Linked DNA regions of Homo sapiens. The protein of the gene in region 1 purifies or fractionates together with the protein of each later gene. This does not show direct contact. Each region holds a gene or a part of one and is shown in the gene's direction. Other genes may lie near its edges.

The links.
Region 2: the proteins of TSPAN18 (region 1) and SCARB1 purify together in Homo sapiens (affinity purification with mass spectrometry; one large-scale study listed by BioGRID and IntAct). This does not show direct contact.
Region 3: the proteins of TSPAN18 (region 1) and TMEM181 purify together in Homo sapiens (affinity purification with mass spectrometry; one large-scale study listed by BioGRID and IntAct). This does not show direct contact.
Region 4: the proteins of TSPAN18 (region 1) and HS6ST2 purify together in Homo sapiens (affinity purification with mass spectrometry; one large-scale study listed by BioGRID and IntAct). This does not show direct contact.
Region 5: the proteins of TSPAN18 (region 1) and ZDHHC13 purify together in Homo sapiens (affinity purification with mass spectrometry; one large-scale study listed by BioGRID and IntAct). This does not show direct contact.

The regions. Positions count from the first base shown.
Region 1 is NC_000011.10:44,903,584-44,909,556, forward strand, and holds part of TSPAN18 (tetraspanin-18), read left to right. Parts: exon of another isoform or gene 1-76; intron 77-196; exon of another isoform or gene 197-256; intron 257-2,823; coding exon of another isoform or gene 2,824-2,833; coding exon 2,834-2,896; intron 2,897-5,973. UniProt on the Homo sapiens protein: Plays a role in the cell surface localization of ORAI1 and may participate in the regulation of Ca(2+) signaling and the VWF release in response to inflammatory stimuli.
Region 2 is NC_000012.12:124,803,563-124,809,535, reverse strand, and holds part of SCARB1 (scavenger receptor class B member 1), read left to right. Parts: intron 1-1,608; coding exon 1,609-1,775; intron 1,776-5,973. UniProt on the Homo sapiens protein: Receptor for different ligands such as phospholipids, cholesterol ester, lipoproteins, phosphatidylserine and apoptotic cells. Receptor for HDL, mediating selective uptake of cholesteryl ether and HDL-dependent cholesterol efflux.
Region 3 is NC_000006.12:158,631,883-158,637,194, forward strand, and holds the end of TMEM181 (transmembrane protein 181), read left to right. Parts: coding exon 1-6; 3' UTR 7-3,547; downstream 3,548-5,312. Other genes in the region: DYNLT1 (dynein light chain Tctex-type 1), read right to left, coding at 4,945-5,015, 5,246-5,312.
Region 4 is NC_000023.11:132,950,457-132,956,429, reverse strand, and holds part of HS6ST2 (heparan-sulfate 6-O-sulfotransferase 2), read left to right. Parts: intron 1-5,973. UniProt on the Homo sapiens protein: 6-O-sulfation enzyme which catalyzes the transfer of sulfate from 3'-phosphoadenosine 5'-phosphosulfate (PAPS) to position 6 of the N-sulfoglucosamine residue (GlcNS) of heparan sulfate.
Region 5 is NC_000011.10:19,145,888-19,151,860, forward strand, and holds part of ZDHHC13 (palmitoyltransferase ZDHHC13), read left to right. Parts: intron 1-293; coding exon 294-416; intron 417-1,708; coding exon 1,709-1,786; intron 1,787-3,299; coding exon 3,300-3,444; intron 3,445-4,839; coding exon 4,840-4,904; intron 4,905-5,973. UniProt on the Homo sapiens protein: Palmitoyltransferase that could catalyze the addition of palmitate onto various protein substrates. Palmitoyltransferase for HTT and GAD2. May play a role in Mg(2+) transport.

The DNA.
Region 1 (5,973 bases):
CCCAGAGGCTGCAGCCATGTCTGGATGAGAGAGAAGGCCAGGAGCAGGGCTGAGGCTGGAGATGTTTCAGAGACCCCTGTGATAGAGAGGATGATGTCATCCGATTTTACCTCCAAAGGCAGATGGCATGTCTTGAATTCAGGCCATGCTCACTGAAGTAAAGACAAATCCGCCCCCCACCCCATCACACACACACCATCCTTTGTCCTTCCAAGCTGGATTGCCTGGGTTCCAATCTTGGCTTCACCACTCACTAGCTGTGACCTCAGACAAGTCACCTCGCCTCTGTCTGACTCAGTTTCCACCTCTGGAAAATAAGGATAATAAGAGTATTAATCTCATGGGTTGTTATGAGTTAGTAAATGTAAAGTATCAGGACGGAGCTGGCACATAGTAAATGCTCAATAAATAGTATTATTTGTAGGGGTGGAGACTTGGGTGGATGATCTCAGGAAAACCCTGATTTCCCATTACCCCAACACAATTTAAGAGAAACCCTTGGGGCACTGTTGGAAGGACAAAGGCTTGGAGCCTGGAGTCCCTGGGTCAGGTTCACCCCATGATTTTTTCCCTTGCATTCCTCACCAGGTAACTTGGTGCCTCAGTTTCCCCTTCCTAGTAAGAGAAGAAGGAGGATGTCCCAGGTGGGCTCTGAGTGTCTTCCCCTCCTGACTTTGATGCTGAGTGGCCCCGCCTGTGCCTCCCCTGCTCAGCATTTTTCCAAGTTGCAATAGGGACCAGTAGAGCAGCAAGGAGGAGGTGTCCCTTTAGGGAGGAAAGCCCTCCGGCCCCAGGGCCAGTGCCAAATCCAAAGCCGATGTGCCTGTCAGACCTTCCTCTTGGGCTCCAGGCACCTTAGCCATGTCTGCCTGGCCAAGCTCAGCTGGTGGACAGACATCTGGCACCTTGGCAGAAACAACGAGAGGAGGGACGCAAGGCACCACCCCTGAGACCAGGAACCTTTCCTGTGTCGACTCCCCACCAGCTGGCTCTGTCTGTGCTCCTCTCTCCATGGATTCAAATGCACTTAAAAACAAACAAACAAACAAACAAAAACACCTCTAGCTCAGACCAAAATGCAGCCTGGAGTGGTGCTGTCATCACTGATTAGGAGAGGGGTGGAGTGGCCCAGCAGGTGAGAGGCAGGCACCGCTCTGCTCCATCTGTTCCTTATGATACGAGGGTGCTGGTCTGGCTGCTGAGGAGAGTGTTGGATTGTGGTTTTGGGCGAGGGCGAGGAGGGGACAGAGTTGCTGAGGCCTATTATGTGCCATGGGCCTTGTCAGTGCTTCCTACAAGCTGTGTGGCCTTGGACAAATCCCTTAACCCTTCTGAGGGCTGGGCTGATGGAAGGATGTGTGGTCATCAGAGTACATACCTCCTTGGTGGTTACAAGGATTAAACGAGATAATATGCGCAAAACCCTGGGCACAGTGCTGGATCCCCAAACAGTGGCTACGATTATTACTGTTTTCCTGACTTCATTTTAAATTGATGAATAATAATTGTATATGTTTATGGAGTCCAATGTGATGCTTTGATACACATTTTACTATTATTAATATTAATAATAAGCCTCCCAGAAACCCTTTGAGTCAGACTTAGCAACCTTATTTTGTGGAAGAAGAAGATAGAGTACAGCCATGTCCTGTGGGAGGAAGCGGGAGCTGCAGAAAGTAATCAGACACCATCTCCCCTACATCCATCCACACCCCAACACATATTCCCAGAACCCTTTGCACTGAGTCCTGTCATGGAGGTACAAACCCCCTGCTGGAAGCACCTGCAGTGCCGGCAGCTCAGGACTGGCTTGAGTTCTGGCCCTTCCCCTTACTAGCTGTGGGACATCGGACATGTCGTTTTCATTCTGAGTCTCGGTTTCCCCACCTGTCTCATGGATCTCTAATCCCTGCCCTGAGTCTCTCCTCAGAGCCGTTATGAAGAAAATGTGAAAATAACGAATATGGAATGTAAACATGTCTTGTGCACCTTGAGGTCTGACTCATGAGAGCAGATGCTGTCAGTTTCCCCTGGGGGATGGGGGACATTTGCATCTCAGTGCAGCCCCGGCTGTGCCTGGCAAGCAGCGGATGCTCAATCAATGTTGGCTGAATGGAATTGTGTTCAATGACTTGCTGCCATGGGTATACTTTTAGGTGAAGACAGGAAGGGCTCCCAGGGAGGTGGGATGCTAGAGGTCTCAGAGTAGAGGTAGCCAAGGCTCAGGGAGGCTTTGGCCCCAGAAGCAGGTTTTAGATCCCCAGGTAGGCTGCTCTCCTTTTCCCTGCAACACCCCATCTCGCTGGCACCAAGCAACCGCCCTGGTCTGTTCTGTGGCTGGAGGGTGTGTGGGTTGGTGGGAAGTTTGTCAGGCCTGGCTTCTGGTCCAGGCTCTGGGCCTTGGTTTTCTCATCTATGAAATGGCCAGCTCACACCTGCAGTAGAGCAACAACGTGAAGCGGGACTGCTGAGCACTTACCACGTGCCCGACGATGTGCTAAGCATGTTACTGTGGGATTTCAGTTCATCTTCACAACACTGCTAGGAGGAAGGTTCTGTTCCTAATCTCCGCTTTAAAGTCAGAGAGAGCAAGACTCAGAGAGGTAGAGTAATTTGCCCAAGGTCACATAGCGAATGAAAGCTAGAGCCAAGGCTGAAACCCAGGCAGGCTGGCTCCAGCATGCTCATCTCTATCATCGGCCTCCATCTTCTTCCAGCCTTTGCAAGGGTGGGGCTGGCTGCGGGGAACCCCTGGGGAGGGGCTGGGGTTCTTCCTGGGTGGGGTCCCCCATCGGGAAGACTGAGGTGGCCTTGTATTTCTAGGTGGAGCACCATGGAAGGCGACTGTCTGAGCTGCATGAAGTATCTGATGTTTGTATTCAATTTCTTCATATTTGTAAGTATTCCTGGGTCTTCCCAGGCCTCTGCTGGGTGGGCAGAACTGGCTGCTGCTTTGAAATAGTCACACTGGGCTGAGTCCCTGGGGCGAGCACAGGGGCCGGCGCTAGAGGCAGGGGTACCTGCCAGCCAGGCTTTCATGGAAGGGGGCCCCCAGCAGTGCCCACCCCACTCTGAAGAGCCCACCTTCTTAGGAGAGACATTTTACACAGGCCCTGGGGTGGGTCAGCCCCTCTCAAAAAGGTGGAGGGGACCTAGGTCCGGCCACTGTCTTGGGATCTGACCCCTCGTGGAGAGTGGGAAAGGAGGGGATGGGGGTGATCAGAGGGCAGCAAGAGGGAGCCCCACCCAACCTTATCTCCCTGAGCAGTTGACGGACTTCAGACCTGGAGGGGCCGAGTCCATGTAGCCACCGGATATAATCAGAAACCTCTCTGGGAATGCAAGACCTGCATTCAAATTCCAGTGCTGCATCTTAGCAGCTTGTGATTTGAGACACATTTCACCTCTCTGAACCTCAGTATCTTCATCTCTTAATGACCTTCCTCAACAGGCTTTTTGAAAATTAAGCAAGATTAGTTTACAAAGTACCCTGGATGTGGGCAGTCCTCAATAGCTTAGCTCCATTTCCATCTAGCCTATGGATTCTGTATATGAAGGGACAGCCCCGGACATTCAGGTGGCCGGCCCACCTGCTGGCGGCCCACCCACATGCTGAGCCCACCCACCTGCTGGTGACCCACTGAAGGCTCTGCTCAGACTCATGGCCCCTCCCAGGAGTAGAGCTGTGGCCCTGGATTCTTGGGCCCCCACAGGCTTTCCTGGTCCAGCCTCAGGCTTTGATCTTAGTACAGCCAAGACCTGGGTGAATAAACCTCCACTCATGTCCTTCAGGGCAGGCTCTTGAAAGAGGGGTCCTCTTTCTGGCCAGGACTGACCGTCTGTCTCTCTCAGTGTCTATCTTTCCCTCTCTATCTCTACCTCTATATCTTTGTGTCTTTTTAAAAAATATACACTTCAGCAACTCTCTTAGCTTCTCTTCCCTGCCTTATAATCCTAAAAAGCCTCAAGCCTTGCAGACTTGAATTCTAGACCCAAGGTCACCACCTTCCAAGCCGGGTGACCCTGAGCCAGCTCATCCTTCCTCCAGCCCCAGTGTTCCCACCCGAAATGGAGCTGGGCCCTCCTTGAAGTGTTTAGCATGCAGTTGCTGAATCCCCAAATCTCCAACAGCAATAAGGAGGCACAGATTTTCCTGGAGGTTGTGCGGGAGACCAACGAGAGAGACACAGGCTGGGTGCAGTGGCTCACATCTGTAATCCCAGCACTTTGGGAGGCAGAGGCGGGTGGATCACCTGAGGTCAGGAGTTCGAGACCAACCTGGCCAACATGTTGAAACCCCATCTCTACTAAAAATACAAAAAGTAGCCATGCGTGGTAGCGGGTGCCTGTAATCCCAGCTACTCGGGAGGCTGAGGCAGGAGAATCGTTTGTACCTGCGAGGCAGAGGTTGTGGTGAGCCGAGATCGTGCCACTGCACTCCAGCCTGGGCAACAGAGTGAAACTCCGTCTCAGAAAAAAAAAAAAAAGGAGAGAGACACTGCACAGCAGATGGCAAAAATGGAAACCCTGTCGCTGGCCATGCCTGTTAAGTCTTTCCTTCTCTTTCCCCTGCTGGGTCCTTCAGGCCTCTCCACTGGACTCCTGCCCTAAGGTCGCCTACAAATGCCCCTTGCCCAAAGCCATCAGCTCTCTTCAGCTTGCAGTCCTGCTCAGCCAAGCCAAAGCCCAGCAGTTTTCCTGTCGCCCAGCTGTCAACCCTCACACAGGCCTCTTGGGCCTCCGGTCCTCCCACCACACAAAGGGATTTCAAATACTTTACAGCCCGCAAATCCCATGGTGCCAAACTTTGGTTCTTCCCACAACAGATCTGCTTCTAATACTTATCTGTGCCCAAGAAAAATGGAATAGGCTGGGCGCAGTGGCTCACACCTGTAATCCCAACATTTTGGGAGGCCAAGGCAGGAGGATCACTTGAGCCCAGGAGTTTGAGACCAGCCTGGGCAACATGGCAAAATTCAGTCTCTATAGAAAAATACAAAAATTAGCCGGGTGTAGTGGCATGTGCCTGTAGTCCCAGTTACTTGGGAGGCTGAGGTAGAGGATGACTTGGGCCCAGGAGGTCAAGGCTGCAGTGAGATGTGATCCCGCCACTGCACTCCAGCCTGGGTAGCAGAGCAAGACTGTCTCAAAAAAGAAAGAAAGAGAGAGAGAGAGAGAGAGAAAGGAGAAAGAAAGAAAGAAAGAAAGAAAGAAAGAAAGAAAGAAAGAAAGAAAGAAAGAAAGAAAAAGAAAAATGGAGCAGATATTTATTGAAATCTGCTAAACGCCTTCTATCCTTTCTTCCTTAGGGCTGCCTTAGGATGAAGGTGTTTGAGTCTTCTTTTGACCACAAGGAAGCTAAAAGGCTCAGACAGATTTTGACACTTGCCTAGGGTCACACAACTAATAAGTGGCACAGCTCTCTCTCTAGACTACGCTGCCTCTTTCCAAAGATAAATAAGGCATAGAGAGCCCATGTTGATGGAGACATAAATAAGAAATCTTTTGAGCTATGGATTTGAGAGTGGGGAGCCCACTCTCAAGTTGGAACCTCACTGAGAGTCCCATGGGGGACAATGACGATGACTTGGTCTGTGTCTTCCCAGCCCCTAGCATGGGTGGTGCAAACACAGCATAGGGCTGACTCAGAGCATGTTCATGGACCTTTGTTTAGGGTGTTGAGGCTGGAGTCAGGGGGCCTGCGACCAAACTCTGACTCTGCCATGAACTTGCTGTGTGACCTTCAGCAAGTTGTTGGTTCCCTCTGTATGGAATCAGAGGGTTGGACTAGATGACCTCCTAATCCTACAGGTCTGACATTTCAAGAGAAGATAAAATTGGCAAATAGCCTTTATGTGATACAGCCCGAGGTGGGGCTTGGGTCGGAAATTGGATTTAGAGGATGCGTGTTGCACTTAAGGTCACGGCAGCTAGAAAAATTAAAAGCAATTCAAGGTGCGGCTGGGACTCACT
Region 2 (5,973 bases), on another chromosome or scaffold:
GGGCAACTCAGGCAAATGCACAAACACTAGAGTGTCAGAGAGTGACAGTGCTTTTGCTCTGTGTGGCCACTTTTTACTATTTTAAGTTTTTACTTATTTATTTATTTAATTTTTTAGAGATGGGGATCTCGCTATGTTGCCCAGGCTAGTCTTGAACTCCTAGCCTCAAGGGATCTTCCTGCTTCAGCCTCCCAAAGTGCTGGGATTGCAGGTGTGAGCTACTGTACCCAGCTGACTTTAAAAGCTGAATTTTAAACTTAAAGAAAAGTTGCATGAGAAATACAAGTGGCCCCCGTCTCCCCTTCACCCAGGTTCACTAGCCGTGTTAAGCCCCCCACCCCCTCTTCTCGCCGAGTGTCTTTTTCCAGAACCATCGGAGAGTAGGTTGGAGGCTGTATGCCCCCTTACCTCCAAATACTCAGTGGGTGTTTTTCAGAAACGAGGACATTTTCTTACATAACCATAATGCTGTTATCAAAATGAGAAAATTTGGCATTGACATAATACTGTTATCTAAGCTGGCACTTTCCTATAAATCAAAATATGCAAGGCACACATGCAATTTAAAATTTTTTAGTGGCTGCATTAATACAAGTAACAAGAAATTGGTGAAATTATTTTTAATAATGTATTTTATTTGACCTCATATATCAAAAATGGGATCATTTCAAGTGTTATTGATGAGGTTTTTTTTTTGTTTTTTTTGCTAGCAAGTATTAGAAATCTGGAATGTATTTTATACTTGCATCCCAATTTGGACTCACCCCATGTCAAGGGCGGGATGGACAGCCATGCGTGCTGAGTGGCTGCCGTGGACAGAGTGGGTAGCACAGTGCATGTTCAAGTTCAGAAGTGCTTTTGAGAAAGTACAGGAGCATGAATGGATGGAGGGTGGATGGGGTGGGTGTGGGGGACGGTGCTGCCACCCGAGGAAGTGACAGCTGAACTGAGATCTGACTGAAGGGCTGAAGTCTGGTGGATGAAGATGCCAGAGGAGACTGTTCTTAGGCAGAGGGAGCAGTGATGCAAAGGGCCTGGGGCAGGAGTGAGTGTGCTTAGGAACTGCAGGGAGGCCCTGGGCACAGGAAGTTGGGGCAGGGCTGAGCAGAGCTTATGCAGGGGCTAGATAAGGTCAATGAATCCTAATGGTAGGTTAGACTAGAAAGGGTCACAGATTTTCAGCAGGGGCATGATATATTCTGTTCTTTTTTTAATTTCATAACTTTCAAAAACAATTTTATTTTTAGAGACTGGGTCTCACTATGTTCCCCAGGCTGGTCTCACACTCCTGGGCTCAAGTGATCCTCCCACCTCGGCCTCCCAAAGTGCTGGGATTACAGGTGTGAGCCATAATGCCTGGCCTCTGTTCTTTTGTAAAACTCCATCTGGCCACGGCTAATACATTGATGTGGGTGGGGAGGCAGAGTCGGAGCGGAGAGGCCTGTTAGGAGGTCGCTGCAGCTCCGCGGGTGAGAGATGGGGGCGGTTTGGACCCGGGAGGTGGTAGCGCCCGTGGGGAGAAGTGGCTGGATCTGGGCAGCCTTTGGCAGGGCCTGGCTCTGGCCGCCGGGTCTGGGTGTCCCCTCTCATCCTGTCTGTCCCCTGCAGATCCATGAAGCTAATGTACAAGGAGTCAGGGGTGTTTGAAGGCATCCCCACCTATCGCTTCGTGGCTCCCAAAACCCTGTTTGCCAACGGGTCCATCTACCCACCCAACGAAGGCTTCTGCCCGTGCCTGGAGTCTGGAATTCAGAACGTCAGCACCTGCAGGTTCAGTACGTGCCGTCCCCTGTGCTGGGATGGCGGGAGGGTGTGAGGGTGGGGCCAGCTGAGGGTTTATCTGCCCAGTGCTGTCTGCTTAATCTCTGGCCTCTGTACTCTTGATAATCCCATTAGGCGAAGATAATGAGGCCGCAGGAAGATAATCTGAAAAGGAAGAAATGCCAGGTCTATTAGTTGCTGTCACAATATATTGCCATGAACTTCAGGGCTTAGAACAACACACACTGGTTATCTTGCAGTTCTGTAGTCAGAAGTCTGCGTGGGTCTCACCGCGCTCAGAACAAGGCGGCTGTGTTCCTTCTGGAGGCTCTAGGAGAAGCTGCGTCTGCCTTTTCTGGCTTCCAGAGGCCCCTCTGTGTTTCTTGGCTCCCGGGCCCTTCCTCCACCTTTGAGGCCAGCAACATGGCATCCTTCTGATCCACTCTGTCCTCATATCTCTTCCTCTCCTCCCTCTTCTGCCCCCTCTTCCAGTTCTAAGGACCCTTAAGACCACATCGTGCTCTCCTGGATACCCCAGGACAATCTCCCCATCTTGTTTATTATTATTTTTTTTGAGACAGACTCTCACTCTGTTACCCAGGTTGGAGTGCAGTGGCGCCATTTCAGCTCACTGCAACCTCCGCCTCCCAGGTTCAAGTGATCCTCCCACCTCAGCCTCCCGAGTAGTTGGGACCACAGGCGTGCACCACCACACCTGGCTAATTTTTTGTATTTTTGGTAGAGATGGGGGTTTCACCATGTTGCCCAGGCTGGTCTTGAACTCCTGACCTCAAGTGATCTGCCTGCCTCGGCCTCCCAAAGTGCTGGGATTATAGGTGTGAGCCACCGCGCCCAGCCTATTTTTATATTTTGAGACAAGGTATCACTCTGTAGCCTGGAGCTGGAGTATAGTGGTGCGATTATAGCTCACTGCAGCCTCGACCTCATGGGCTCAAGCGATCTTCCTGCCTCAGCCTCCTGAGTAGCTGGGACCGCAGGTGTGGGCCATGATACCTAGCTAATTTTATTTTTGTAAAGTTTTTATAGAGATGTTGTTTCACCATGTTGCCCAGGCTGGTCTCAAACACCTGGCCTCAAGTGATCCACCTGCCTCTGCGTGTTAAAGCAATGGGATTACAGGTGTGAGCCACTGTGCCCGGCCCAATTTCTGGACCTTCAAGGCAGCTGCTGAGCAGGCCCAGCGCCCGTTTACCCTGTGACCTGACATAGTCATGGGTTCTGGGGCTTAGGGCATGTACGTGTCCTAAATGACATGAAATGAGGCTGGCGAGGGTCTGTGTGTTACGTAACATCTTCTCGTTCCGCAGTGTGGGTGGCTAGGCAGATGTGATGACTGCTGTTGGCGTCGGTCCCCTGACATTGTTGGTGTGTCTCAATTGTGTGCCAGTCCCTGAGACACCCCCACCTCAAGTTGCTCAGTTTGGACCCTCGGGCGTCAGTTTGTTTCCCTGTCCTCACCCAGCTCTTCCAGTGCGTCAACAAGCCCAGATGGCTTTACCTCCAGGTTGAGTCCTCACTCCTTCCTCTCTCTTGCTCCCCACCCCAACCCCCGCCTCATTGTCCAGGCCACGGACACGTCCTTCCTGGTGATCCAGCCCTTTCAGTAGCCCATCCCTCAATGCAGTGTTGCCGCCTTACCATCCATCCCCTAGACCATCCAGTGCGGTCACTGCTGGCCTCTTGCGGCTGTTTAAATTGAAATTGATTTAAACGAAATCAAATTAAAAGGCAGTTCCTTGGTTGCACCGGCCGGAAGTTAAATGCTCATAAGCCATGTGTGTCTAGCAGCTACTGTCTTGGATAGCACAGATAGAGAACATTTCCATCATCATAGGAAGTTCTGTAGCACTCCCGACAGCAGCGGAGGGATCTTTTAACAATGCAGGCCGAGTGTGGTGGTTCACGCCTGTAATCACAACCCTGTAGGAGGCCGAGGTGGGAGGATCACTTCAGGCCAAGAGTTCGAGACCAGCCTGGGCAATATAGCAAGACCTCTCTCTGGCCAAAAAAAAAAAAAAAAAAAAAAAATTAGCTAGGCATGGTGGTGCATGCCTGTAGTCCTAGCTACGTGGAAAGCTGGGGTGGAAGGATGGCCTAAGCCCAGAGGTCAAGGCTGCAGTGAGCTGTGATCACCCCACTGCACTCCAGCCTGGGCAACAGAGGAAGACCCATCTCGAAAAATATGCAGATGGCCGCCGTCCTCTTAAAATGTCTGGCAGCTCTGTCTGCATTCATAGTGAAGTCCAAACTCCCACCATGGCCCTGGGCCCTGCAGGATCCAGCCCCTACCGGCCTCTCTGAAGGATCCAGCCCCACCAGCCTCTCTGACTCCATTTCTCCCTACACGTCCCCTGTTCATTATTCTCCAGCCCTGATGCCTTCGCCCTTTTTCTAAAGTATACCAAGGTCAGTGCCTTGCACTGTGGTTTGCATGGGTTGCTTCCCCTGCTTGGAGAGCTCTTTGTCTGGATTTCTGAGTGGATCATCCCTCACCTTCTTTTGGCCTGCATGCAAATGCCACCTCCTCCGGGAGGCCTCCTCTGATTTCCTGTTCTAAAGTTGCCCCCTCTCCCACCTGCTGCTCCCTATGGCTTCCTCTTCTTGTCTTCTTGTCTTGGTCTTCTTGTCTTCCTCTTCTTGTCTTGGTGCTCATTGCTCCCTGAACTCATGGACTGTGGATTTTATTCATTGCCCCTTCCATTCACTGTCATCCCTGTAGGCAGGGCCCCAAGCTCCTCTTGTTGGTTTTATTCTTAGCTTCTAGAACTGTGCCCCGCATGTAATGGGTACTCATACAGTATTTGAATATAGGGATGGTGAGTGCGTTCTGTACTTAGGAAATTGAGGCCTGATGCTGGATGCGACCAAGGTCACAGGGTTGGTAGGACCGGAAGCGGCCCTCTATTTGACTGTGTCTTGCCTTCTGGGAGCCTTTTTGGTTGAAGCCCCGTCCTCCAGCTGGCAATGGCGACTCTAAAGGACTGGTCTGCAACAGGGGTCAGGAGGAGGGGCTGTCAACAGATTGGATGCTTTCCCCTATTTCAGGCAGAATGGAACAACCTGTGAATGAATGGTTTGGAGCTGGGGCCTGGGACGCCCGCTGCTGTCTCCTGGTCCTGTCTGGCCCGTCTGGGCATTGGCCTCTGCTTGCTTCATTCTTTGCTGGTATCGGCGGGGATTTCTGCTCCTAAGGTTGAGGATGTTACACACCCAATAGGTGTGCTACAGCAACTGTCGCAAGTGGCAGATGCTGGACTCCACCTGATTTAGGCCAAAAGGGCACTTCTTGGTTTGCGTAATGAAAAATTCCAGGGCAGATCTCTGCATTAGGCACAAATCCAGAACTTAGATGTTGTCTGGAAGCTGCCTCTGCCAAGTCCCAGCTCAGTTTTCTGCTGGACTGGCTTTGCTGCCAAGCAGGCTCTCCCTCCTGGCTGCCTGTGGAGGCTCCAGGCTCACCTCCGCCCAGCTCCGAGTCCTGCAGAAAGGGGGCCACCTGTGTTTCCTTCACTCCAGCAGAAGTTCCAGGGTTTGCTCTAATTGGTCTGCCTGGCTCCCATGCCCAGCTGTAAACCAATCACAGTAGCCGAGGTGGACTATGCTGATTGGCCAGGCTTGTGTCACATGCTCAGATGGCTCCTGGGTGGGCCGGCCCCACTCCAAGCACAAGGCTGAAAGTAGGGAAGGCTTAAAGTGGGGGTGTAGGTACCAGGAGAAGGGGGAGAAACGACATGCCCATCCCCTCCAAGGGCGTGGGACGAGGTGTGTCCCGCCTTCTCTTAGCACATCTGCCAAAAGAATTTCAAAAGCGCAAAGGAATTTTAAAATCTTTATTTAAATAGAGTTTTTTCTTATATTTATTTATATTTTTGAGACAGGGTTTCTCTGTTGCCCAGGCTCAAGTGCAGTGGTGCAATCACAGCTCACAGCAGCCTTGACCTCCTGGGCACAAATGATTCTCCCACCTCAGCCTCCCAGGTAGCTGGGAGCACAGGTACACACCACCATACCTGGCTAATTTATTTTATCTTATTTCAATTTTTTTTTTTTTTTTTTTTTTTTTTGTAGAGGTGGGGTTGTGCCGTCTTGCCCGGGCTTAGTTTTTGCTTCTAAATAAAATATACATAGATACAAAGAAGTTCCCAGATGACTCATGCAGTTTTTGGGGTTTTTTGCTTTGTTTTTTGAGAC
Region 3 (5,312 bases), on another chromosome or scaffold:
GACTGAGCCCCGGCCAGCCCAGCGAGGCGACAAGATGCCTGGATGCTTTCCCCGGTGACCGTCTGCTGACCTTCCCCTGTTATATTCAGATTTTTCTTACAAGCAGAGATTTCCTGTTCATTTGTTTACATATTTTTTTAAAGGAAAACCAAAACTGAGGGTAAATTTAAATGTTTAGCCAAATTTATTGTCATGGTGGCTACGAGAAGAGGCATTGATAACAAGTTTCAACAGCCAAATCCTTTTTTACAGAGATTTCAGATGAGCGTGTTTTCAGTGATGAGGAAATTTCACGTTTTTAGTACAGTGAATTATGTACTTTTTTTTCCTGTAATCATTCACTGATTCCAAGTTCACGGGCAGCCTGTGACTAGGTCCTCAGCGTGACAGCATCACCCTCTTTCTTCCCTTTTCCATGGTACTGTTTTGTGACCCTTTAAACTCAAAGGGAAGCCTTATCTGTGGCTGCTTCAGGGCAGTCCTTCCTCGTTGAGTGGCCAGTGCCCTGGGTAACCAGGTGGCTGAAGTGATTGGTCAGTTATGTGGACTGCGTTTTGTGCAGTGTGTGAGTTATGACTCATCGGGAATGGGAGATGCTGGGGTTCCAACCCTTCACGTCACCAAAGGGGAAGTAATAGTGTGGAGTTCTGAGGAGGGTTTGATAAGTTGAATAAGGAAAGGCTAAGATAATTTACAGGTTACCAACTCATGTGGGGAAGGTCTTACTGCCATGGTGCTTTTCAGGGGCCTGTGTGTACACACATGATTAAATGGATTTGCCTGTGGGAGGTATGGGCAGGAGAGGAACCCTTACCATTCCAGTAAATAGCAGTTTCTGCAATTCTGTTGAATATGAAATGCCATAGAGCTTTATTTATTTATGTAAGTAAAAGCTAAATGAGGGGCCAGGTGCAGTGGCTCACATCTGTAATCTCAACACTTTGGGAGGCCAAGGTGGGAGGATCACTTGAGCCCAGGAGTTTGAGACCAGCCTGGGCAACACAGGGAGACCCCGTCTCTATAAAACATTTAGAAAGTTGGCTGGGCATGCTGGGGCATGCCCATAGTCCCAGCTACTCAGGAGGCTGAGGTGGGAGGATTGCTTGAGCCCTGGAGGTCAAGGCTGCAGTGAGCCATGATTGCACCACTGCACTCCAGCCTGGGTGTCAGAGCGAGAACCCGTGTCATAAATAAATAAAGCTACATGAAAGATTGATAGAATATTTTAGATTATTTATTGGCCAAAAGTTTTTAAAACTCATATTTGGAAGCAAAATGAAAAGCAAGTAAAATGTTTTAAATGGTTCATGGAAAACGTATTTGGGTAGAAGGCAACTCGTGCTTCCGGAAGGGGTTCCCTGTCCTCCATGTGTCCACATGGCGGTCAGGTAGGGACGACCTGTTCTGTAAAGTCCTTGGCACTGCTGAATCTGTGGCATCATAGAAGGCCCTGGAGCTTCCCCGTTCCTTTCAGTCAGGGACTCCATATAGAGTCTCATGTGGACGTCTCCCGTGCTTTCCTCTTGACCTCTACAGTCACACTTCTGTTAACATCTGGTAACTGTGGGCAACCTGACTGATGCCGTCTTGGCAATTGAGGTCCAGAAGATGATAGTTCCGCAACGCAAGCAGTACCTACTTTTTTTCTTCATCTATGCATTGACTCTCAGATTACCATGCAGAGCTTCACGTTATCATCCACGTTAAGTAGTGCTAGGTAGGACCTTAGAGATGTTCATGAGAAACTATTTGTTATGACTTTCCTTTGTATCTTTCCTTTTAATTTAAACTTTAATGATAATGTACTTTTAATATGGATTCTATTCACATTTGTTTTAAAAACCTTGTAAATATGAATGTTTAAGACAACTTACTGCAAGGGTAATTCAAGTTTACATGATTTTTAAATTTGCAATGATGTTTTTTTTATTCTGTGTATTGAAAAAAATTTTCTGTTACCAAATTTTACAACTTCTAATAAGACTACTATAACTTTATGTAAACTGATGAAGATGTGCTGATTAACATATTCTGTGATATGGTTTACAACTTTTAATCATAATTGTCCATGATTTTGGAATGCTGTTATTTATCAGTAAATGTAAAATATTTGAGGCATTTAGCCATACACACACTAGAACTTTTTAAAACTTTGTCCTATAGTGTAATTATAAACTGATGACTATTATCTTCATACATTGAGTCTTCATGCATCAATGAAATGAAAAATATAGGATTATTTATTTACTTTTTGTAACTAAGTGGGAAATAAGAAAAAAAGTTAGAAAGTACTTAAGGGGAAAATCGTTCTTACTAAGTCATGTATTTTCAACTTGTCTTCCCTGGTATATCATAAATACCGACATATTACATACCCCATGTAAAATTTTGCTTAAACTCTCTAGCACTTGGCATGTAGAATATGTACCATAGGTATCAGGTTAAAACACTAAAGTCTGCCAGAAACTTTTGACAGTAGCAAGAAAATTGTTGAAGAAAAAATAAATTATTTACTGAGGGTAGTTATGTTAAAGTTTTGCGAACTTAAAGGGCTGACTTTAGTTCCTTCATGGTAATGGCTTGAGTAACATCATCTTTGGGATTTTTTAAATACTGGTCCAGTCTAGGAGAACCTGGAAGATGACCAGAGGTATTTCAGTTTCCCTAGGGAGAGCTTCGTTATCCATGTGGATGATAAGTCTGCTTGATTTATTATTAAATCATTATAGCAGTGAAGTGGTGCCATTTTCTCTCTCTTAAGCCCCATTTGAAAGGCTAGAGAAGGGGATATATATACTATGTTCAAGGTTTGTAAGGTTGTTAATGTACATAATTGCAGATTGCAATAAAAGCTTAGATACATTTTGTAAACCCAACCCACTAAATGAGCAGGTTACAAGACAAATGTCACCAGCCTCAAGTATTTTATGAACTATTTACTGAGGGTAGTTATGTTAAATAGATTATAATGTGGTAAATTATTTCCTGAATCCTTTATCACAGGAAAAACACAGACCCTCATAAAAGGGATAATTAAAACGGATGTGTCTGAACATTTAGTGAAGATGAGACTTAAAACATGAAAGTGTATTTGTGTATTTTGAGGGTTTTAGAAACCGGTTGCCTTAGAGGTTAGACTTTTGAAGAAAAAAAAAAAAAGATACAGATCTTTTCCCCTGGCCAAAGGGAAGTTGTATTAGTCTGTGACATCTTGTGATGCTGTTTATCTTGGTTTGACATTGGAGATACGCTAGTAACTGTGATACCATACTATAAAACAGAAGAATTTTCTGCTACTAAAAACTGCCTTTTTACAAAATGACTGTAAATATTTGTAAAATAAAATAACACTAAACTTTAAGCCCAAAAGGAGAGATAGAGCCATGTGTTCAGTTGTGGACCTGTCCGTGGGGCACAGTGCCACCCCATCACAGTGTTGCTGTCATCAGGCAAAAGTGAATGTTTGTTTATGGCAAATTCGTCTTTTGCGAATGGCTTAATTCTGACACTACCTTTCTGGGAAATGTTAATAAATTTTTAATATTCACTTCTATGTGTCTTGATTTGTTTGCTCTTTGTGTGTGGAGTTAATTTGGCCTTGCAGACATAAATGCTTTAATAAAGCGGCTTTGGAGACAACGGCAGGGCTTTTCCATTTCAGCAGGCAGGCACGGAGGTATCTTTATTGCCATGTCTAATGTGGCCTGGGGAAGAGCACTCAAGATGGAGACAAGGCGTGGGTTTGGGCCCAGCTCCCAACTTGGATGTGTGACTTTAAACCAATCAGATAACCTCCAAACACATTTTCTGAGATTTTTAAATGACTGCAAATTGTTGAAGACACAGAATGAATGATTGTGAAAACCATTTTGTAAGCTCTGAAGTACTAAGACAATTTGTGAGCCCTACAGAGAACACAGGATTAACAGTTAAGGTGTTACAGCTTTGGGCCAAGTGTGAGTTAGAGCTCTCTGGCTAAGAGAATAGAAATTGGTTTGCCCACCTCCCACCCCTTCACCTCTAGAAGAGGAGGGCTTAAGAATGGGAGGTGTGATGCCGAGGGGTAGGAATCTAACCAGAACCCAGCAGAGCCGTCAGGATCCTGGTCCCACGGGTAAAATGAGTACATCATGGAGAGGACCACAGCAGAACTTTTTTTTTTTTGGTTGTATATATATATATATATATTTTTTTTTTTTTTTTTTTTTTTTTTTTTTGAGGCGGACTCTTGCTCTTGTCACCCAGGCTGGAGTGCAGTGGCGGGAACTTGGCTCACGATCTTGGCTCACTACAACCTCTGCCTCCTGGGTTCATGCCACTCTCCTGCCTCAGCCTCCCGAGTAGCTGGGACTACAGGCGCCCGCCACCACACCTGGCTAATTTTTGGTATTTTTAGTAGAGACGGGGTTTCACCGTGTTAGACAGGATGGTCTTGATCTCCTGACCTCATGATCCGCCTGCCTCAGCCTCCCAAAGTGGTGGGATTACAGGTGTGAGCCACTGCGCCTGGTCTGGTTGTATAGATTCTGTAGCCACTCACTATGAAGAAATCGTTTATGATACTATGCAGACTATGAAGAACACAACAGACTTTAGATTTGAATAATTTATTCTAACAAAAGTATAAAGTATGGAAAATTAGTGTATTTGAATCATTTCAGAGAGTAGAGCAAGTTTCACACTAGCAGATTTCAGATTTTAGCACCTTTGAAATGAAATATTCAGAGTTAAGACAAGTGGCAACGCAGGCTGCAGGTGACCTACAGGGATACTCATCTGACTTCGGTGCCATTCACATCACAGTGCGGTCATTTGGTTTTTTCCTCTACATTGTGAAAGTGCCACAAAACAAAGAGAATGAGAAAAGAGTTCACTGAATTCATGGCTGGTGGTTAGAGGATGAACTAGAGACAAAAGGAGAAAGGCCATAGGCTGGACTGCAGGTCAAATAGACAGTCCGAAGGCACTGACGATGCAGTACATGGTCTTATTCTCCCATCGCACAGTGCAGCTCCCTGCGGGAGGGAAGAGAGCAGCATTTACGGCAGGGAAAGCTGGGGGACGACGTTTTACTCACAATAAGGCCAACATTCAAGTACCCATCTCTATGCTACACAAAGAACCTTGGCAAGTCTATTATTAAATGTTTTAAAAGGTGATAAACATGCATTGCATTCAAAGATAGGAAACTTCCAGTCATATATTTCACACAACAAAACTTCACAAACATGAATGAAAATCATACCGTCAGTAGAGCTGTCCCAGAAGCAGGAACTTGCTGTGTGTAATCCAGCTCCATTCTTCTGCATAAT
Region 4 (5,973 bases), on another chromosome or scaffold:
ACTCTGCACCCGGGTTCCGAAGTCTCCTTTCAGCGCTCTCTTCCTCCTTTCGGCGCCCGCATTCTTCCCTCCCCCCGCTTTCCCCCCTATTTCGTCTATTTGCCTTGTTCTCCCTCTTTCTCTCTTGTGTCCTAGATGTTGTCTGCTCCTGTTTGCTCGCTGTTTCCTTCTTTCCATTCCCCTCTCTCGCTTTTATTCTTTTTCTCTCTTACCCTTTCTGTTTTTCTCTTCTTGCCGGACTTTTATCACCTCGCTCCTTCCCCGCTCTGGCTCTGGTCTTCCCGGGCGACTGGGTGTCCCTCTGTCGCTATTTTCCGACATCCAAGGAGAGCTCATGGTTCCCAGGCTTGCTTATCACTACTGGCTGCATGAGAGGCATCCGTGGCTCTTTGGGAGTGGCGGGGGGCACCCCGCGGACCGAAGGGCGGGCTGGGATGGTGCCCTGGACCCCATGTGGGGTTCAGTCACCAGGAGCCTCTCCTGATTTACAAAAAATATTTAAAAAGCTTGAGCCCCAGCATGGGGCGCTGCCAGCCCATGTTCTGTGAGCCTGGGCTGATGCGGTAAAAGCTGATTTATTAATAGTCTGTAGCCAGAAGCAAGGGTATTTTCCTCCCTCCAGACGCGATGTCCAGTTGCTAGAGGTCATGCAGTACTGTAAAGTGGGTGGTGGTGGGGTGGGGGAAGTGAGTGCTATGGGGTGCAGTTAGTCCAGCCAGGGCTACTGTTTCGCAAGTCTCCTTAAAACAAATCTGGGCTGAAGCAGGGAGTCCAGGGGGTGCACAAGGTGAGTTTCATGGCCTGGAGGCCTCTGGATGGGGTCTCTGGGCCGGCAAGGACATGTCTGTGTCCCATCCCCATCCCCCGGGTGCACTTGGTACCCTGGACAAGGGGATGCTTTGCAGGTGACTGTTAGAACGCAACAACCAGTGTGGATTTTTCTGTCCAACTGCAGCAAATAGAGCCCTAGAGCCCTCTGACTTTCAGATTACCATTGAGATTTAAGGGGAACATCACCCCCTGGCTCTCCTCTTCACTCTCTCTTCTCTCAGTTTACACTGTCCTTTCTCAAATGCTGGAATTGTGTCAGAATCTGCCAAACTTGTATTTCCTTTCCAATACTAACAAATTTTTTCTTCCACCCCAAGAAAACCTTAGCCCCAGGACCTCAATCCATTGGTACAATTGTGTAAGTCATTGTCACAACAATATTCTGGTGTTTAATAAGTTCCCAAACAATTTGGCAATATTGAAAAGAATTTCTCATACTGACAGACCTTGTAGGTGTATTGAGAGGTGGTAATATTTAAAAAGCTCTTCTGGGCAAAAGTAGAATTCCACAGCCATGACTATAGCAGAGAAGTGAAAACAAGGTCTTGGTCACCATGAAAGCCATGGCCTTGTCTGGAGTTCCATGGGGCACATGTGCCTTTACTGATCCTTTTGAACATGTAGGTCAGAGTATGATGTCTATAAACACACATTATTAATGTGGTCTAGATTATCTGTTTGGTGGCTACTGTCCTCTGGCAGATTCCTTCCCGCATTCTCCAGAAGATAACCAGAACCCCTCAAAGCCTCTTGGATTGTCCCAAATTGAAGCAAAATTATTTGAAATGACATAGGATTTTCTTGGTTATTAAAAGGGTGATACTACAGTAGCATCTAGTCTAATCAAAGAGCAACCATGTTCTAAAAAGTCACAGTTACTGGATTTTACGGTGTTTGCAAAAATGAAATAAAACTTGCTAGAGAAATGCATTGCTACCTCAAGGGCACCTTTTTATTTCATTCATTCCTGCCCACCTCCAGAAATATTCACTTTGAAGAATAGGGATAGCCTAGGGGTTCCAGAATTTCTCTGGATGTTGACAGATCCCCTAGGAGGTTGCAGGACCAGTTCTGTGAGTTCTGATAATCTGTAAGAGCTAAGGTGTGCATGTGTGTGTGAGAATGAGAGAGTGTGTGTATGTGACTGTTGTATGTGTCTGTGCGAGGCAAAAATTTAGAGGTAAAGGCAGCTGCACCGATGGTGAAATGTGGGGGTGAGAAGCTGGTGTCTGGAAATGGGAGAGTCTGCTTTTGGGAGTTCCTGTGTCAAACAGCCTCTCCATGCCAGCTGGTGGTCTCTGTGCTCCTCTCAACTGAGGGGAACAACAGTTCCACCTTTCTGGCCTGGGAGTTCAGACAGCTGGGCCTTAGTTCTAGGCCAGCCACTAACCAGCCATGTGACCCTCGACCAGATCCTGTGTAGAGAGTGCACTCCAGTTTATGATAAGCGTTCATATCCCTTATCTCTGGTATTCCTCTGTAAACCTGCACCATCTTCAGCAAGAGGCCAGAGTGGACAAAAGGATCCCCATTTATCAGATGAGAATGAAGCCCAAAAAGGCTAAAGGGCTTCCCCGGGGTCACTGAGTTTTTTTAGCGGCACAGCAGGAATCTGACTGCACTTCTGTCTGACTCCACAACCCTTGCTCTGTTGACTGCACCTTGATGAACAAGGGTTTTTTGCAAAACCACAGTGAGGTCTTGAGTTAGTCATTCCCACAAAGTGAATGAACACAATAAATGTTGGCTGTTGTTGTTATCACCTACATCATTATCATCGTCAGTCATTTTACAACATGTGAGTTTGGATGAGTTTTTGGGCCAGGATTACCACACCCATTGGGAGAAGAACGGATTTCTACATCCCTAAGGCTTTCTATTCACTGGGGATAGGTTTTGTGGCTAGATTGCAGAGGGGTCTTTCATTGCCATGTTGGGAATCCCTGCAAAGCTGAGCAGGATGGGAGCGGGCTGAGGCCTGGTTGGATGAGCTTCAGTAGGAGCCTTCAGCTGCGACAGGAACCACCTACTGACTCACAGCCATTCATCCACATTAGGGAGGTATCAGAGGCTATTGTGGCTGCAAGCCAAGACTCTGAATCCTGCTTCCAGTGCTACATTTGGGATGCTTCTCTGCCTCCGCGGATGGTTAAGTGCTTGGGTGATATATAACTGCTGAATAGAAACAACCGTGATCACGTTGCCTGGAGAGGACAAAGAGAGAGAGAGAGAGAGAGCTTGGCTGGTGAAAGGCTCAAGTTGTTTATTAAGAATAATATTTCTTTAAAAAAAATCAGAAATTGGATTTCATCCATCTGTCTGCCAGTATGTTGTTTGCAGTCACTCAGGGTCCTGCTCATTTTAGAATTTCTGAGACCATTTTTGAAAGTGTATCCAAACATTGTTGCTCACAAGCTGTTAAAAGTCCCAAATTCTGCAGGCTTTTCTTAGGCCAAATTTCCTCTGTTTGTAGCCAACTCTAGTGTGCCATTTGTTCTGTAGAGGGAATTCAGAACTGGGCCCAAAGAAATAGCACTAGCCCCCTTCTTCATCACTAAGTATCATGCTGGCCAGCATGCACAGAATGGGGTTGAGAGGTCAGGGTCCATGGCTATACAAGTCAAAGAATCTGATCATATTCATGTTGTACCCTAGACTTTTAGCATCTCTAAAATTTTCAGTTTGGATGAGTGATTGGGCCGGGGGTACCACACCCATTGGGAGAAGAACAGATTTCTACATCCCTGAGGTGTTTTATTCACCAGGGGTAGGTCTTGTGGCTAGATTGCAGAGGGGCCTTTCATTGCCATATTGGGAATCCCTGCAAAGCTGAGCAGGATGGGAGCAGGCTGAGGCATCTGGAAGAGTAATTAATTATCATCTCAAATCCAGTAGCATATCATTGATGGGAAAGGACTAAAAAGTGTTTGTTTAGATGGAGAAAAGCTTTTTTTGGTCATTCTATTTTTTTTTAATTGTGGGAAAAGCTTTCTTTTATTCCCATTTGTTTTTAAAAGGTGGCTCTATTTTGAAAGAGCTGTAACTATAGAGTGTGTGTACCTGATCATGCCTCACAAGCCCACGCTTTCCCTCTTTCTTCTCCTTGATTTTGCAGTGAGGCAAAATGACACAACAGGCTTGTGATATAGGCTGAGGCATTAAGCAGAATGGACTGTTACAGCCAGTGGTCAGTACTGGTCGTGTGGTTCATCAGGCTCTAAGCTGTTGGGCTCAGTTTTACTTAGCTGAGGATACATTTCTTCAGCTGTCTTTGAGAGCTGTGGTACCATCTTAGCTATTTCATAGAAGAGGGGGAGAAATCTACCATTACAATATCTGTAGAATTCCAGTAGTATTAATTAGCATCTTTGCATGGATGTCGAACATGGTGTTGGAGTCCTTACAAAGCTGTAAGTTCTCAGGTAGTACAAAAGGCTATTCAGAATTAACATCACTTAATAATAATTTTAGATCAGTGCTATGGGGCAATTAAAATGCTAGAGCTTGTCTTTCATGGATATCAGTCATCAACTGAGGTAGTATGTAATGACATTAAAAGAATAGCCATCCGTTTTTTTCTGTCATTCATTAAGCAAGATTTTGTGAAACTGTTCATTATATTCCAGGGAAGAGACATCATTCTCTGTCTCACAGAGCTTATGGTAGAACAGAACAATTTAGTACTTTAGATATTTAATTAAAAAATGGATTTTGTTTGAAAACAATTTGAAAATCAATAATGTCTTTAAAATGTCATACATTTACCAGAATATACAAAAAATAGACAAAAGTCCATCTGTTATGTTGTAGTTTGGGTCTAATCGGCAAAGCAGATGGAGTAACTATTATGTCTCTGGCATGGTGCTAGCAGTTGTGGGGAGATTAGAGCCAAGAAGAAACCAAAAAAGCCAAGATAACCATCTTCAGCCTCAAGTCCATAAAGATTAGCATGTGAAGTGCAGGACTATGTCATGTAGACAGGTGCTGGGAGAGGAAATTTAGATTTTGGACAGGCCCTTTTCCTTCCCTTGGTCTCAGTGTCTTATCTATAAAATTGGAGATTTAAATGACATGCTTTCCAGGGCCCTTTCCTTTCTAAAGTATGAGGAACAGGCCAGAAAAAGGAGACATCCTTTTGAGAAGGCCTCTGGGAGTAGGAGAGTTGTATTAAGAAGAAAGGAGGCATTGTGGGTGGGCACGGAGTCCTCATGACCTTTTGAGGTCCAGCAACCTCACCTAGGCAGGTCTGGCCAGACCCGAAAGGTTCATGCTTGGAGTAATAATGGTTAGGGAAGTAGATGGGGTTAGGCTCCACTGTGGAGGACTTGAATGGCAATGAGGAACCCCAGTAAGTATGAGAAGCTCTTGGATGGAAAGAGTGCAAAAACACCATGAAAGTAAATAAAGGTCGGAGTCTAGGTAAAGCTATCTCCCTGATATCTAGTCTGGAATGTAGGTGGTACCAGCCACCAAAACAGAGAGGTTGAGAAGGGGATCTGGTTCGGGCTGGAGAGTACTAAGAAGTCATGACTGGTTCCTGTTGCCTAGATTTCTAGTGGACAGGACTTATAAGGAGGTGACAACTGGGGCTCTGGGGCAGGTTAGGGCTCCATCGTACATTATATGTGGGAATCTGTGGACCCAGTTAATCTGAATTCACAATTGGCGTTGTTATTTAAGTGATAGCTGCAATTCACATATGGGACTCTTAGCCAAGGAAAAGGATGTTTGAATAAAGGAAAAAAGATCAATAGTTATGATTACATAAGAATAAGATATGCTTATCTGTCAAAAAAAAGCCAAAACGAAAAGGTTTCAAACTGGTAATAATATGCACAATTACAACAGACACAAAGTTGAAATCTTTACTGTACAAAGAACTCTCACGAGCTGATTAGAGAATCAAAGGACATGACCAGACAATTTACAACATAGGACCCCCAACTAGTTTGCAGACATGGAAAAACTGTTTTATTTCACTGGTACTAAAGAAATGCACATTTAAACATAGAATACTTTTTTTGCCTCTCTAACCCTGATTAAAACAAACAAACAAACAAAGCAAAACCCAACATATATCACCACCAAACAAAAAAAGTAGACAGTGCTGACAAGGGCATGGTAAATATCAAAATTCTCATA
Region 5 (5,973 bases), about 26 Mb from region 1:
CATAGTGGAGATCAGATGAAACTTATTGAAGGAAGGCAATGTAAGTTTAAAGTTTACTTAAGAAAGTCAAGTTCAACTCCAAAGAGATTAATCTGATCAGTACATAAACCAGGTTTCCTTTTGCTGTTTGGCTTTATACTGTGTCCTCTCTATGCATGTCTTTGTTAATTATTATATTTCTGTATTGACTGAAAGGCAGTTTGGATAGTGAAAAGATATAGTAAAGTGAAGAAATTTTGATATTTGAAATGATTTTAATTGTATCAATTATGCTTTTTTTTTTCTTCTTTGAGATACGGAATTTTTGAACGATGTAAAGAGTTGGTAGAAGCAGGATATGATGTCAGGCAACCAGATAAAGAAAATGTGTCGCTTCTTCATTGGGCTGCTATTAACAACAGACTGGATCTTGTAAAGTAAGATGGGATATGTGTGTTAATTGTGTATTTATAATTTTAGACCTCTCCTTCATTTATCTTTTTCTTTAAGTATGGGTATTGAACCATGTGTAATCCTCGTGTAAAAGAACACCCGAAACTTTTTCTGCCACACACGTTGGTTATTATAAAGTTGAAAGGGACCTTAGAGACCATGCCTGGTTGATCCAAAAGGGAAAATTAGAGATAAAGCCAAGGGGGCCAATCATAAAGTTTAGAAAGTAAAAGTGAACATTTTTTAAAAAAGGAAAAGTATAATAAACTTTTTCAGAAGAGAATGGGAAGTCTCATCTAGTTTAGAAGAAGCATTGAAATATTTTACATTTTAATACCACGAAGAATAGATAGGTAGGAGATTTAACCTTTTAAAAAAACTAAATATGGAATATACTTTTAAGTGGGCATGTATTGGATTGTATAAAATATTTCCCCTTCATAAAGCACTACTGCCTACCCATTGTTTCTTTTAAACAGCTTAACATGTAAAATGTACATGTGTATGTGAATGTGTATATATTTTGTGTTATAGGATTAGATATTTAAAATCCTCAAAGTTTAAGAAATTTATTAAGGTTTAAAATGTTCTAACACACATGAATACTCACAGGCAAACTCCTCTTCTGTGGAAATAAACTGGCATGGTATTTAGATAATATGATGTATGAAGCTCAACTTTGAAGTAATGAGACTAATTCCTATAAACCATAGAAGAAAATCAGTCTTATTACCTTATATGTCCACCTTATACAGTGCCTCTCATCTCCGTACCCTAAATACAGGGCAAAACACTCAAAATGTCTAACTTTTCCAAAAGGATTTTAAATTAATTCTTTACTACTTACTTTTAAAATTCATTCCCACATAGTAATTCTACTTTTAAACTGTTGAAGGTGACATAACTTTACCTTTCTCCTTCCAGTCAAGTAAGAATATCTGTCTGATCCTAAACCTTTTGAATATAAACAATTTCAAGAGTGCTGCGGTAGTTAGACTATGCAGAGAGTAGTTATGATGTATTTGATATGTAAGTTATAATGGAATGCTAATTACAGCAGGACTAATTACTTACATCCTAAGGATGTTTCATCAGGGATTTGTCTGATTCTGCCATGTGAACCTTTCATATTTCTATAGATCTGGGTGTTTTAGGGATTATTACTATCATAATTTGTTCTCCAACATATTTATTACTATGAAAAAATTAGTATTTTCTTTCTCAATATGAAGCTTAAGTTTCAAATCTTACTTTCATTTGTGTCTGCTTTTAACAGGTTTTATATTTCAAAAGGTGCTGTTGTAGATCAGTTGGGTGGAGATTTAAATTCAACTCCTCTTCACTGGGCCATCCGGTAAGGTTTCTTTGAACACTGAAATTAAATAGCCACATATAGCTAGTGGTCACCATATAAAAAATCAGTTATAGACGATTTGAAAGGCTGTCTTTTCTTCCCCCCCCCCCTTTATTTAAAAATAAATTTCAGCTTTAAAGAGTTTGCAGAAAGGATGTTTTCGATATTTAATTTAGGGCTTCATTATGATTATCCAACTCAAATATGTGTTTTATAGTTTCTTTTTTGTAATTAGAATAAATAATTTTCATACTTGGTAACATAAATAAAAATAGTAGTTCAGTGAAGTGCAAACTCATTCAGTTCAGGCTTATGACAGATGTCTATTTAGAAATTTACGATTTTATTTCAGAGGTGAGTTTCCTCTTAAATGTGAAGTATATCTCTATATCTTAGGGCCAATTGAGTCAACTCTTTTAAAAGTTGTTGCAGGATTAACAAGAAATTTTGAGTATATCAACTTAGAACATTTATATTGTGTGGTCACTCTCCTTTTTTCTCTGTTGTATATTGGCCATCTGAAACTGAAGTTAGTAAGTCTTGAATACTTATCAGTTTCTTTTATTAATTTAAACTCCACTCTCGGTGGTTGGTGGGGTTGACAGGAATCTGAAACTGAAGTGAATAATTGTTCATGTAAGTCAAGGAGTTGAATCTTTTCTCCATAGCTAAGAGTTTTGAAACTCTAGGGTTACTTCATGCCCTTTAAGCTACTGAGGTACAGTACTTTACATGAAAAATGAACCATAGTCAAGCATAAGAAAAGCATATGAATATATAGCTCTTAATATTATCACAGTAAACCCATAGTTTATGAATATTATATTTCTGTATATCTGGCTTATGATTTTTTGATTTTAAAATGACAGTGACATCTAAGTGGTCTTAGAATCTTCATTGTTACCATGTCATAAAGAATTATTATTCACGTATGGTAATGTGTGAAGGTCAGGTTTAGGGTAGATTGGGAAGTTATCAAGTTTATCACTTGCACTCAAGAATGATTATCCAGGCCGGGTGCAGTGGCTCATGCCTGTAATCCCAGCACTTTGGGAGGCCCAGGCAGGCAGATCATGAGGTCAGGAGATCGAGACCATCCTGGCTAACACAATGAAACCCCATCTCTACTAAAAATACAAAAAATTAGGTGGGCATGGTGGCATGCGCCTGTAGTCCCCGCTGAGGCAGGAGAACCGCTTGAACCTGGGAGGCAGATGTTGCAGTGAGCTGAGATCGTGCCACTGCACTCCAGCCTGGGTCACAGAGCGAGACTCCATCTCAAAAACAAAAAACAAAAAACAAAAAAAAACGAGAATGATTATCCATATAGTTCTAAGTTTGCAGCATCTAAGTTAAAAACGTTTGGACAATCACCATTGTTTCAAAAATCTTACTGTTAGGAAATATTTTTTATATGTAACCAAAATCCCTCATGTCTTAGGAATATCAGTCTCTCCCTGACTTTTTGCTTTTTCTGCATGCTACAGAATGGCTTTTTGTCTTCTATTTGCAGACAAGGACATTTACCTATGGTCATATTATTACTCCAGCATGGTGCAGACCCCACTCTTATTGATGGAGAGGGATTCAGCAGCATCCACCTGGCAGTATTGTTTCAACACATGCCTATTATAGCATATCTCATCTCAAAGGGACAGGTATGTTCTGAAATGTGTCTTATACTCCAGTTTTTATCATCTGAAGAGGTTGGGGAAATTATTAGTAGTAGTCTCTTCTCATTTTTAAAGTGGAGGTTAATGGATATCCAGATATTCAGATATTAGCCTCAGTACGTTTAGCCATTGAATACTGCTTTTCAGCTTCATTGGAGGGAAAAGGACAGGTCATTTAGCTCAGTAACGTATAATAGATGTTTCTGAAACTTGTAAGCTGGTAATAGTTTTTCTTATGAACCCAGTAATTTGCAGAGTTTCTCAAAAACATGACTTCAAAGCCTGTATTTTTCTTCTAGTTGAATATAAAAATGGTAGTCAAATCACTAAATTAACCCATCATTTGCTTTCATTATTTGAGCCCAAATGGGAGGCCAATTTGAATATATGTTTCTTATTGTTCTCTAAAGTAATTCCATGAAAATTGACTTGCCTTGAGAGGCACAGGTTAAATTATAGGTTATTGTAAGTTTCACTGTCAATTATACTTGCCTGGAATATGTTTTCTGGTAGCAAAGTAGTTTATGTATTAGCAGACTTGCCTGTAAAAGGCATGAAAACGTGTTTGCACAAATGCTGTTGGAATGATTGTGCTCCCTTTAAATAAGCACTTTCTCTCAGACTTAGCTGATTGAAGTAGAATTATAACCTCCTAGGTTTCATTGTTGGAAAAATATAAATATATGAGGAAGAGTCCTGTCTGCTTCTCTTTGGGTGCCTTCCCAAGTCCTGTTCCTCCAAGGCCCATAAGAATCTTCAGAAGCTGAAACTGTTTTTCTTTGGCTTAGCTGAAACCATTGCTGTATACCTTAAACCTAGACCTGTCTTATTAAAAGGACTGTATCCTCATGGAAATATGATTTCCTTTTTTTTTCTGTGTTCCAGAAAATAGAAAGGAAATTTTCATATTTTACTATTTAAAACTTAATATGATAAGTCCAGAAAGACAAGTTGCCTCAGAAGATAGGGAGTTCACTATTTACTGGAAGTGTTTGAGTAGGTACTGAATGACTTTGTATAAGAAATGATAATGCGAATTAATGTGTCAACTAAGGTCTCAACTAGGTGACTTTTAAGGTCTCTACCATCTCTTGTATTTGATGGTAGCTATCAACATTTTACTCTTTCCCTTAACTGTGTTCACATCATATAACACTTTACATTATATATTCAGATTTTCTTTTTAAAAATATTCTGTGGAAATCCATGGATTTTTACCCTATGGAAGTGAGCAAAACATTCTTTTTATCAAATGATATTTGAGCCCTTTATGTAGAAATAATGGTAGTATTGAATGTATTAAAGAGATATTTCTATTAAGAGAACAAATAGACTTTTGAGTGTATTTACAGTTATGCTAATTGTCTTCTTTTTGAATAGAGTGTGAATATGACAGATGTAAATGGGCAGACACCTCTCATGTTATCAGCTCACAAAGTAATTGGGTGAGTTTAATTTAGTCCACTCAATCTCATTCTTGGTTCCAACTATTTCTTTTCTGTGTATGTAATTTTAAGTATCTGTGTCTATGTGAGATGATAGTACATTGAAGAAAATAAGATTTTTCACACAGAGACTGTGATAATTGACTTTTAAGGTAGTTATAGTTAGAAAAGCAGCCTTGAAATACATTTTCTCTTTTCTGATAGCTTTGGCAAAAAGTTTGAAAGCTACTAATAAGAAAAAAATTTCCTTACCTATCAAGTAGATATACCTTGAAATATACTTGTTAACATGACTTGTATTTCTTCCTTTGGCTTTAAAAAAATGGCTATAATTTTAAATGTTCTCATAATTTGAAATCTAAGTGATAAATCTGCTTTCTGGAAAATATTAAATTTTGAGATTCTCTGACATCATTCTTGACTACTTTGAAAATATCATTAACTGAAAAGAGTCTGTATGTTCAGATCAGGCACTTACATATTCAAGTTTTTCTGTGTATTTATTTCTATAAACACATGATTAATGACCACTGTATAGTTCAACTTCTGGTATTTATCTAGGCAGATACTTACGACAGTTCTCACTTTAGCAGTTTGTTTCTATGTTGTATTGAATCTCTGATTTTGCTTGTACTTAGGACTTCTAGGAACTGTGTTAGTTCTAATGCTATTTCCTTTTTGTTCATGGAATGGTAGGACTGGAGGTAGAATTTTATTAAAAAGCATTTTCTCTTCTGTGCTGGTAAATCTGAAGTCAGGTATAATCTCTATAAAGATATTGATAGAATAAATAAAGTAGAATATTGTTTTATTAAAAGAATCTCTTCAGTGGTCATGAAGGAAGGAAAGGTATTGGTAAAGTAAAAATATTTTACTGAATTCTGTCTTCTAGTCCGTAACTTTCTAAGATATACAAATATTTTAGGGCATAATTTATACCTGCTTTATTTAACAGTTGATTTGATGGAGAGTATGAAGTTAGCTCCTCAACTAAGACATACATTTAGTCTTTAATTGAATAAATAGCATAGCATTTAATATTGGCTAAAGTTAAATCTATATTCAAAGA